3 linked regions of the Homo sapiens genome follow. The protein of the gene in region 2 interacts with the protein of the main gene of each other region in a pairwise test. Each region holds a gene or a part of one and is shown on either strand. Other genes may lie near its edges.

Region 1 (3,649 bases), on a different chromosome or scaffold from region 2:
TTTTAAGGTCTTTGGACCTAGGGAAAAGGGAGCAGGTCTGTATGTTGAATGAGGTTTGCTATGTGCGCAATGGAGCATTACAAAACCATTTCCTACTATTCTGTGTCCTCCATCCACTTCCCCTTAATTATCCTTTATCTTTTTTTATATCTTCTAAAAACTACCATTATAGACAGCTTGTACATAGTCAGATTATAAGCTCCCTGAAGGTAGGTATCCTGTGTCTCCTGAAGGGTAAGCTTTGCAGGGCTCATTGTCCTCAATGCTGTGCACCCAACAGGAACTCAATCAATACTTCTGTAATTGGCCAAGTATAGATGAAAGGGTTTCTAGCCTGGTGGGCTGGTTTGTAGGAGCAAAGGAATCCAAGTGCTTAGGCCAATAGTTTACATCGCCAGTGTCTGGGGCTCTATGCAGGGTCTGTCAATATTCTGCAGGAGCCAGCACTCCTCTGTCCTCCCAACCACCCTAGTCCTTACAGGCATCTACCCTTTGTTCTATGCCAGGACTACAGGGACAGTTCTGCAAGGCATCTGAAGTTAATAACCTCAATAGGCTCAGGAAAGGCTCAAGAGATCCAGCCCAAGCCCTTCCACAGAGGCCGCTCCAGGAAGTGCAGGGCAACCAGAGATCACACAACTACGTGTGAACCCAGCTCACAAAGCCAGCTCGGAACCCAGATCTCCTGCCCATACCACTGCCCAGGCAAGCCCAGCACCATTTCTCTGGTACACATTGCTCAATGTCAGGCAACAGCCCACCCAGAGGTCTCCTGGAGACTCTAAAGGCCTTCAAGACCCAAATGATTATTCTCTGAATAAGAATTTATATATTAAAGCTGACCCCTATAGAAATTCCTTAGGAAAATAGGGACCAGACTCCCTATCTTTTTCTTTCAAATCTCATGATAGAGTACCAAGTCTTTCCCCTACCCCCAAAGGAGAGTCCTAACCTGGAATGCTATTGGGCTGGATCTCAGGAGAAATCTCTAGGGTCCTACACACACGCCCCTCATTAATTGTGACCAGCATAGTGGGTATGGGCCTTTACCTCCCACCACACCATGCCAAACTGCCGGCTATACTTTCAAAACTCAGGGCCCACATCTGGCCAACACCCACTCCTTCCCCACCCCTCACTGTGTGGGGCACACCTTGGCAACCAGACTGCTGTATCTCGGAAGCGGGTTCCACCCAGGCTGAAAATCTCCGTGATCTAGAGAAGAATTAACACCATAGGTCAATGTGGTTGTTGGGGCTACAGCAGGGTCAGGGCAGGGTGGGGCATCCCCAGCACTGACCACGGGTGTGCCAGCCCCTCCTGCCTCTTCCTCTGGGGCCAATTTGGAGGCAGAATCATCCTTGTTCTCCTCCTTGTCCTCCTCTGGGTCAGGTGGCTCTTGCTTCACAGAAGGCAGGCCTGGGTCTACTGCCTGGGAGAAGTAGGAAACAGGCAACCATTAGAAGGGCAGAGTTCACCTGAGGAAAGTCTCTATCAGCCAACCCCTCACTGTGCTGACAAATCCTACTTCCATCACATTTCAACACAGAAAGTCCATCTCTCTGCCTACAAAGCTTTCCCATTCCCATTCCTCACTGACCTCCGTTTTTCTGTTAGCTGGATAGCAAAGCGGGCAAAGCTAGTTGCCTGTGGGAGGTAGGGTGTCTGTTAGACAGGCGGGGTAATTCTGCAGAAACGTCGCAATCAGCACATCTATTGCTCTGCTCAAGAGAACCATCATGGCTCATCATCACTCTGCTTACAGACCACTCCGCTACGGCACCAACAGAACATCCATCACTGCCCCCACCTTGCTAGGGCAGCCAGGCACCAATACGGGAGAAGTCAGGACAGCTGTGCCTGGTGTCCACTCGTCCTGGGTATCCGCCTTCTCTTGCTTCACCTGGGGTAAGGCCACAACCCAACTCAGGCCAGAGCACTGGGCCTCCTGCGTGAGGGAGGATTGCAGCAGACTTGGTCTCAGCTCCCTGGCATGCAGCTGGGTGAGGCTGGGAAGGCAGGACAGGGTGGGGCCCTCACCTGCAACAGGGCTTCTGTGGAAGCTGCAACAGGGCCCGGCACCTGCACAGGACTGCTTGCGCCTTCCCGTAAAAACACAAGGTCAGTGCCAGGCGGGGGCAGCACAAAGCCACCACCTGCTTCCTGCTTCGTTGGAGCCTGGGTATGGTCTGGTTGGGCTGTGCGTGTAGCCAAGGTGGGCTTCAAGGTAGGGCCAAGATGGTGCCGTCGGGCAGAGCTGGGCCTCTTTCGACGACGGTAAGGTGGGGGCGATCCTGCCCCATCCTCAGACTCTGACCAGACACTGGGCAGCAGCCGCTTCTATGGGGAAAGATAGGGTGCTATGGCTACCTGGTGTCCTGACCAATCACATCCACCCTGCCCGGCTCCACATGCCTGCTAATCTCCCATCAGTCCCAGCACGGAATCTGCTTACATATGAGCCCTTCATCACTGAGCCTGCTAGTCTCCTATTAGCAACACCAATGCCACCTAGACTCATTAAGCCAAGAACAATGTCTGTTAATCCTCAACCAAAGCTACTGCCCCACCCACCCACCTACCAAGCCTGCCCACCACTTCCAGGCACTGGGGCGCCTGGCCCAACCTATCCCGTCCACCTGACCCTTCCTGCCCCACCCACCATGGCAAACTGCAGGCATTGGCGCCAACGACACTTCTGGCGCTTCTGGTTGCTGCCCCCGAATTTGGGCTTGTCGCAGCAGAAGTCGCAGCGGCCACAGTCCATCCGCCGTAGGCAGGCTGCACAGGCCCCGCACTTGCGGTTCTGCCGGCGGTTCGTGTAGGGCTGCTGGGGTGGGGGGAATGGGTGGTGCTGTCAACTAGGACTAGGAGAGGCCATCCTCAACGCCTATTCCAGTGCTGGTCCTGGTGCTCCTCTAGCCCCATAAGACGGAGCTACTTGCATACTAGTCTCAGCCTCCTGACTCCCCACTAGTCACTCCTCAGCATTCGCTAGTTCAACATTGGCCACTATCACTGTGCCAGCTGGCCCTCGATACCATTAGGACTGTGGCTGCTCCACTACAGTATCCACTGCTGTATTTCCTAGGCCACCACTAGCTACCAAGAAAATGTCTCTGACCCCCATTTCCAGCAACATTTTGATAACTCTCTATTAGCTCCCATCACTGTGCCTACTCTGTCGCTCATCCTAGGTGAACCCCAGTCACTATGCTAGCTGCTCCTCTGTCAATCCCCACATCAGCTACCAGAGTGTTGGTATATGTGACATGAAGCACTCTCATGCACCTGCTGACCCCGTATTAGTCCTCCATTATCTACTCATCCCATCCTAGGACCCATTATTGTGCCTTGCTGTTCCCCAATAGGCTCATTCCAGCATCTGCTTCTTTGAAGTTAACCAAGCGTCCTGAGATTCTAGGCTTATCCAGGTAGGGTGGGGCCACTCACTAGCTCGTCCTCGTCTACACAGTAATAGATGAACTCGGCAGGTGGCGAGGGGGCCAGGGCTCTGGGGTGCTGTAGAGGCAAATGGGGTGGGGTCAGGGCAGGTACTGGGTAAGGTCAGGGTTGTGCCTTCCCTCCACCCACTGGGGCCTCACCGGCTCTGTGGGCTCTGGGGACTGTGATGGGGGTGGTGGAGGCA
Region 2 (3,649 bases):
CACCTGAGGTCAGTAGTTCAAGACAAGCCTGACCAACATGGAAAAACCCCGTCTCTACTAAAAATACAAAATTAGCTGGGCGTGGCAGCACATGCCTGTAATCTCAGCTACTCGGGAGGCTGAGGCAAGAGAATCATTTGAACGCAGGAGGCAGAGGTTGTGGTGAGCTGAGATCATGCCACTGCACTCCAGCCTGGGCAATGAGCGAAACTTTGTCTCAAAACAAACAAACAAAAAACAACAAAGGCCGGGCACGGTGGCTCACACCTGTAATCCCAGCCCTTTGGGAGGCCGAGGCGGGCGGATCACAAGGTCAGGAGATCGAGACCATCCTGGCCAACACGGTGCAAACCCCGTCTCTACTAAAAATACAAAAAATTAGCGGGGCATGGTGGCGGGCGCTTGTAGTCCCAGCTACTCGGGAGGCTGAGGCAGGAGAATGGTGTGAACCCAGGAGGTGGAGCTTGCAGTGAGCCGAGATGGCACCACTGCACTCCAGCCTCAGCAACAGAGTGAAACTGTGTCTCAAAAAAAAAAAAAAAAAAGACTGTAAACAAAGAGGTAACAGGCTGAGACGAAATATCACGGAGAATGAAATACTAGACTATGTTAAAAAAAACTTACAGATCAGGCAAAGAAAAAAAAAGAAAATCCTGTAGAAAAATAGGTAAAAAAATAGGAATTGGCAAGTCATAGAAGAACTAAAATGGCAAACGAACAGAAAAAGATGCTCAACTGCACCAAGAGTCAAGTAAAAATGGAAAGTAAAACAATGTCAATTTTTAAAAATCCATCAGACTGGCAAAGTTAAAAGAAAATTAATCCCATAAAAATTGCAGTGATAGCAGAGAATGGGGAGGAAATTTCCACACATCGCCGGGAATGTACATCTGAGTTTCCCATCTGGCACGCACTCTGGCCATGGCTCATGATGCTTCAGCAATATGCTATTTTGTCCTAGAGGTGAACTCATGCTTACTTGGCTGTCCCAGAGGAATGCATGTGTGCAGAGAAGCATGTGCAGGGACCCCCCCTACACCACTGAGGGGCAAAGAGGTTGAGATAGTGGCAGGCTCTGTGGCTCATGCCTGTGATCCTAGCACGGTGGGTGGCCAAAGCGAGAGAAATGCTTGAGACCAGGAGGTCGAGACCAGCCCTGGCAACACAGTGAGACCCAGTCTCTACTAAAAATAAAATTAGGGAGGCTGAGATGGGCAGATCATCTGAGGTCAGGAGTTCAAGACCAGCCTGGCCAATATGGTGAAACCCCGTCTCTACTAAAAACACAAAAAATTAGCTGGGAGTGGTGGCAGGCACCTGTAATCCCAGCTACTCGGGAGGCTGAGGTAGAAGAATTGCTTGAACCCGGGAGACAAAGGTTAGAGTGAGCCGAGAGATAGCGCCACTGCTCTCCAGCATGGGTGACAGAGCAATACTCCGTCTCTAAATAAATAAATAATTTTTGTAAAAAAAGAGAGAAACCATATCATTGCATTATGAAGTATTATGCGGCAGTGAAAATACATGATGTGGATCTCTGGCTGTCACAATATGATGTGTAGGTACAACAATGTCACATTGTGCACCTTCAGGATACACAATTGCCATCAAATGTCTCAACATACAAATAAAAGGACAGGCCAGGTGCAGGGACTCACACCTGTAATCCAAGTGCTTTGAGAGGCCGAGGTTTGGAGGATCATTTGAAGCCAGGTCGTCGAGACCAGCCTGGGCAACATAGCAAAACCCAGTCTCTACAAAAAAAAATTAAAAAATTAGGCCGGGCACGGTGGCTCACGCCTATAATCCCGGCACTTCGGGAGGCTGAGGCGGGCGGATCACCTGAGGTCAGGAGTTCAAGACCAGCCTAGCCAACATGGTAAAACCCCGTCTATACTAAAAATACAAAAATTAGCCAGGTGTGGTAGCATGTGCCTGTAATCCCAGCTACCTGGGAGGCTGACACAGAAGAATCACTGGAACCCGGGAGGTGGACGTTGCAGTGAGCTGAGATCGCACCACTGTACTGCAGCCTGGGTGACAGAGTGAGACTCCATCTCAAAAAAAATAAAAATAAAAAATTAGCCAGGCATGGTGGCACATGCCTGTAGTCCCAGCTACTCGGGAAGGCTGAGGTGACAGGATCACCAGACCCTGAGAGGTCAAGGCTGTGGTGAGCTTTGATTGTGCAACTGCACTACAGCCTGGGTGACAGTGAGACCCTGCCTCAAAAAATAAATAAAGGCCAGATACATTAAAAAGAATGAAATACATCTAAATGTGGCAACATGGCACAAATCTGAGATAGCTAAGTACACATGTGTATAAATACAGTGAGTGGAGCAGGGAAAGGCACTGAAGGACCCCTAACATTGGAGATGGGCTCCCTCTGGGTAAAGGGGAAGGAGGGCTGTGGTTTCCATGCACAGATGGTGGCTCAGAAGGTCTGAGATGCCAGGTGACCGACGCCAGGCAGGGAAAGTAAACCTTTGTGAATTGTACTGTTGTTTTACAGCTAAACGTGCTCCCTCCTTAAGCCTAAGTTTCCCAAGGGTAAAAACATGGTGAATTTCTCTTACGCCTAACACAAAATTATTCATGAAGTAACCTCTGAAAACAGCACTGTTTAATCAGACATGCCACTTTTTACCTCTTTGGGACAAAGCGAAGGACAAAATATTGAGCCTCAAGACTTAACCAGAAATGGAAGTGCCCTAGGTCACTGGAGGCTCCCTCCCTCCTAATGAGAGAAGCTGGCTGGGGAGAGACCCTTTCACTTTCAGAAAGGAAAAGTCTAGCAGAGCTGAAACCCAAAAGCAAAGGCAGCCGGCTGCTCACCTTGGGGGCCTGTGGAGTCTTTGGTTTCTGGAAGAACCTCGTGATTTCGGCCTTCTCTGCTTTAATGCGCTGTGATGTTAAGAGATGGTGATGAGAAAGAGGAGAGGAAGAGGAACAGTATGTGTTGCAAAACATGCAAAGGCCCCCAGAACCGAACGTCAAGCATTTTAGCTTGAAGGCACTACTGTGATTTTCAGCTCTCAAAACCCACGGACCCGCAACTGAGCCAGCCAATCTCAAAATGTCCAAGTTGCCCTTGTGGGTAGAAGTGCCAGGATTGCAGGGCCAGTAGGCATGTGACAGCCAGCACTGGGAAGAAGCAACAAGAACGCATCTAGACAGACTCGCCCTCCCTGCGGGCGCCATTTGGTTTCCCCAAACCAAGAGAATATTAGGTGACGGCTGTGGCAAGAATTCCACTTTGGGCATCTGCTTCTCCAACGGGCTGGGACGGGGAAGCTCTGTGGGAAACACTCTACCTTCTCTTCTTCTCTTAACCGTTTCTCTTCTTCCTTTTTCCTTTTTTCCTCAAGTTTAGCCCTGTGAGACAGCAAATGACATTTCAGCCGACTCTTTGCTTTGGCTCTGGAAGGGACCGCAGCACTCAACTGTTAGTATATGGCAAGTATTTCATTTTACATTAAATGAATATAAGTTATTTTCATGTCTAGTATAAGGCTTTTACATAGGTCTTCACAATAAAAATGGAAAACAGTCAATAAAATTCTTCCTGTGACTAGAATATATATAAAAAACTTTAGCCAGTCAGAGCACAATTAGCACAGACAAAACCCACAATCCTGCAATGCAA
Region 3 (3,649 bases), on a different chromosome or scaffold from region 2:
CTGGCAACCTGGAGTGTGAGGGAAGAGGGGAGGGAGTGAGGCCGCCCAGCACAGACCTGAGCCACCCAGCCCCATGTGGTCAGTGCAGGGGCCACAGCCAGGCTGCATGGCTACATCCACCCGACACTGGGGCTTCAGGACCTCCACAAGGCACTAGGAATAAACAACAGCCCCAGAGGCCGACTAGTGGCTTGAAGAGGAATTCAGACAGCCACAGAGGCACAGAACCTTCTCCTAGGTGCCCCCAAAATATCAAAGGGGGTGCTCAAAAAGCGGGACCCCAGAAGCGCCATCAGCAGTACATTGGATCTTATTGAACATTTTTTTGTGACAAGGTCTTGTTCTGTCTCCCAGGCTGGAGTGCAGTGGGGCACACATGGTTCACTGCAGCCTTGAAGTCATGGGCTCAAGTGATCTTCCCACCTCGGCTTCCCAAAGTACTAGGACTACAGGCATGCGCCACCACGCCTGGTCCATTTGGGTCTCTTCTGAAAGGAGGGAGTCTAAGGGCTGGGAGCAGGCCATGCATAGCTGCACCGGGGGATATTCCACCAATCCCAAGCTCCCTGCTATTGCGTGCCCTCAGGGTCCTCATCTGGGAGGCAAAAGGGGGCAGATCCCAGGTCCAATGCCACCCAGGACCCAGCCTGTCCCAAATGTTTCTGCAAAGTTTCTCACCGTCCTTCAATTTTCCACTCCGTCCACTGGCCAGTTGCAAACTTGTATTCAAAGAGGTCGTTTTTATTCTTCAAGTTAGAATTGGAATAAATGTCCCCAGTGTAACCCCCTGAGTAAAGAGAGTGAGAAACTGTCAAACCCAAAGGGCAGTCTTGGAGATTTCAAACCCTGGAAGGTGGAGCAGAATCTGGCCCCCCTGAAAATGCATAAGCCAGGACTCCTTCCACAAGCCCCGGAACGACCTGCTGCCTGTCTGCCTCTGTGCTGGGCTCTGGGGACACAGAGATGAGCAGGACACTGTTCCCAGCCACAGCTCAGTAACACAGAAAGACACCCAACCCTGTGAGCTCAGGGCCGTTAGGGCAAGGGGTCCCAGATCCAGCGCAGAATTCCGAAGACTGGCAGACAAAGCCACGGGTGGAGAGAGAGCCCCTGCTGTACACAGCACGAGCACAAATGCCCCAGGCCTGCAGAAGGGCAGGGTGTCTGTGGGCCTCGGGGCGACACAGCCCCTGGGAGGCAAGAGGCTGCTTACCAAAGACAAACATGCTGCTCCCATAGACGACGGCCGAGTGGTGGTAACGGGGGGCCGGTGGGGTCCCAGTGGTAAAGGCCCTGGGGTGGGCACAGGGGTGGTGAGAGTCAGCGGGGGTCACCCATGAGGTCCACACCCCCACAGGGTGGCCCTGCATCCCTGTGCTGCCTTTCTTTTTTCTTTTTTTTTTTTTTTGAGACGGAGTCTCTCTCTGTCGTCCCGGCTGGAGTGCAGTGGCACGATCCCGGCTCAACCTCCACCTCCTGGGTTCAAGCGATTGTCCTGCCTCAGCCTCCTGAGTAGCTGGGATTACAGGCACCCACCATCATGCCCAGCTAATTTTTTGTATTTTTGTAGAGACGGGGTTTCACCATGTTGGCCAGGCTGGTCTTGAAGTTCTGACCTCAGGTGATCCGCCCACCTCAGCCTCCCAAAGTGCTGGGATTACAGGCGTGAGCCACCGCGCCCAGCTACGTTTCACTTTTGTATTTTGAAGGTGATACCTGTCTCATCATAGAAACTTAAAAAAAAAAAATCACCAATAAGGAAAAAACAAAATAGGCACTAAAGCTCATGCAAATTCCCATTACCAGAAAACCTCTGGCAACACCTTGAGGTCTTCCCTGCACACCTCTCCTACGCATACTTAGGCTTCCATGAAATTTTTTAAAATGGAATCAAGTGGCAGATATTTTGTAAATTGCTTATTCCACTCACAGAATGTGACCAGGTCCTCATGCTACTCCAGGACCATCCACACTCCTGCTCTCAGCAGCAGTGCAGCATCTTACAGCACGGGGTCCATCAATTTCATTTAATACCTATCTATCTAACCATCATCTATCTATCTACCTATCATCTATCAATCATCTAATCTATATAATCTATATATCCATCATCTATCCACCTATCATCTACCTATATAATCTATCCATCATCTATCTGTCATCTATCATCTATCTACCTATCATCTATCATCTATTGTCTGTCATCTATCTACCCATCATCTATCTAATCTACCTACCTATCATCTACCTATCATCTATCTATCGATCTGTCATCTATCATCTATCCACTATCTATCTATCTGTCATCTATCTGTCTAATCTACCTATCATCTATCTATCATCTCTCTTTGTCTTTCTATCATCTATCTATCTTTCTTTCTATCTATCTATCTATCTATCTATCTATCTATCTATCTATCATCTGTCTATCTATCTTCCTAGACAGGGTCTCACTTTGTTGCCCAGCTGGTCTTGAACTCCTAGCTTTTTTCTGAGTTTTATACTTAAGCAATTTTTGACAAATAATTGTGAAGCCTTCAGAATGATTTTTTAAATTAATTTGTAACTACTAGCCATCTTACAAAATCAAGTGTGAGAGAAAAGACATAGCAACTTCTGTACCCATACTAGCATCAGCCTCGAGGTAGAGGTGGACAGCCCAGAAGGGTGCCGCCCTGTGTGCCCAGCTTGGCAGCTGCAGGTGCGGGGTGGTTACTTGATCTCCTCAGCCTGACAGGGCGGCTCTGGATGTGGCATCCCTGAGGCCGTGGTTATCTCCTCCTGGAAGCTTCTTTCTAGCTTCCCATGATGAGAGAGACTCTGCTAGCAACTGGGACCCAGCACTGTGCCACTGTGTTCTAGGAGGAAAGGCAGGGCCCTGGAGCACGGGGCCACCCACCTGCACCAGGAGCAGTCTTTCACATCGAACCGCAGGAGGTCATTGAGCATGGTCTTCCTGAAAGGCAGCCGGAAGAGAGGGTGGCATTAGCCAGGTCTACTCTGCAGTGACCCCAGAGATGGGCACTGCATGTAGCCAGGGTAGAGTAGGGGGCTGTTGTGGGCTGGGTCACTAACACAGCCAGGCAACCAGCTGATGCCCAAGAACAAGAGTGGTGACCACAAAGGAGGCTCCCCAACTGATATGGGCACCAGGGCTGCCACACAGGCAGACACCAGCCTGCCTGGGGTCAGGACCAAAGCATGAATGTGGCCACCAGGAGCCCAACCAGCAGCTGACATGAAGGCATGAAATGGCCCAAAGGCCAGAGTCACCCTCACACCTCACCCTAGCCTCCAGAACCCCTATTCACACGTCCCAATCCCCTTCCTCTGCAGCTGTACCCTGCAATGCAAGTGCTTGCCCGTGCCTCAGGAGAGGCCCTTTGCTTCTCTCTGATCTTCCTGCCACTTCTTAAAAAAAAGAAATAGAGACAATGGGCTGGGCTCGGTGGCTCACGCCTGTAATCCCAGCACTTTGGGAAGCCTAGGCGGGCGGATCACTTGAGGTCAGGAGATTGAGACCAGCCTGGCCAACATGGTGAAACCCCATCTCTACTAAAAATACAAAAAAATTAGCCTGGCATGGTGGCAGGCGCCTGTAATCCCAGCTACTCGGGAGGCTGCGGCAGAATCGCTTGAACCCGGGAGG

What was found.
Region 1: the proteins of CHAF1A (region 2) and MBD1 interact in binary tests that used the Homo sapiens proteins (3 or more experiments, as listed by UniProt).
Region 3: the proteins of CHAF1A (region 2) and LZTR1 interact in a two-hybrid assay, tested with the Homo sapiens proteins (one large-scale study listed by BioGRID and IntAct).

What each region holds. Positions count from the first base shown.
Region 1 is NC_000018.10:50,271,524-50,275,172, forward strand, and holds part of MBD1 (methyl-CpG-binding domain protein 1), read right to left. Parts: coding exon 3,606-3,649; intron 3,523-3,605; coding exon 3,454-3,522; intron 2,831-3,453; coding exon 2,663-2,830; intron 2,341-2,662; coding exon 2,041-2,340; intron 1,949-2,040; coding exon 1,811-1,948; intron 1,433-1,810; coding exon 1,301-1,432; intron 1,216-1,300; coding exon 1,154-1,215; intron 18-1,153; coding exon 1-17. UniProt on the Homo sapiens protein: Transcriptional repressor that binds CpG islands in promoters where the DNA is methylated at position 5 of cytosine within CpG dinucleotides. Binding is abolished by the presence of 7-mG that is produced by DNA damage by methylmethanesulfonate (MMS).
Region 2 is NC_000019.10:4,423,064-4,426,712, reverse strand, and holds part of CHAF1A (chromatin assembly factor 1 subunit A), read right to left. Parts: intron 3,379-3,649; coding exon 3,318-3,378; intron 2,908-3,317; coding exon 2,839-2,907; intron 1-2,838. UniProt on the Homo sapiens protein: Acts as a component of the histone chaperone complex chromatin assembly factor 1 (CAF-1), which assembles histone octamers onto DNA during replication and repair.
Region 3 is NC_000022.11:20,985,148-20,988,796, reverse strand, and holds part of LZTR1 (leucine-zipper-like transcriptional regulator 1), read right to left. Parts: intron 2,957-3,649; coding exon 2,900-2,956; intron 1,294-2,899; coding exon 1,214-1,293; intron 788-1,213; coding exon 679-787; intron 9-678; coding exon 1-8. UniProt on the Homo sapiens protein: Substrate-specific adapter of a BCR (BTB-CUL3-RBX1) E3 ubiquitin-protein ligase complex that mediates ubiquitination of Ras (K-Ras/KRAS, N-Ras/NRAS and H-Ras/HRAS).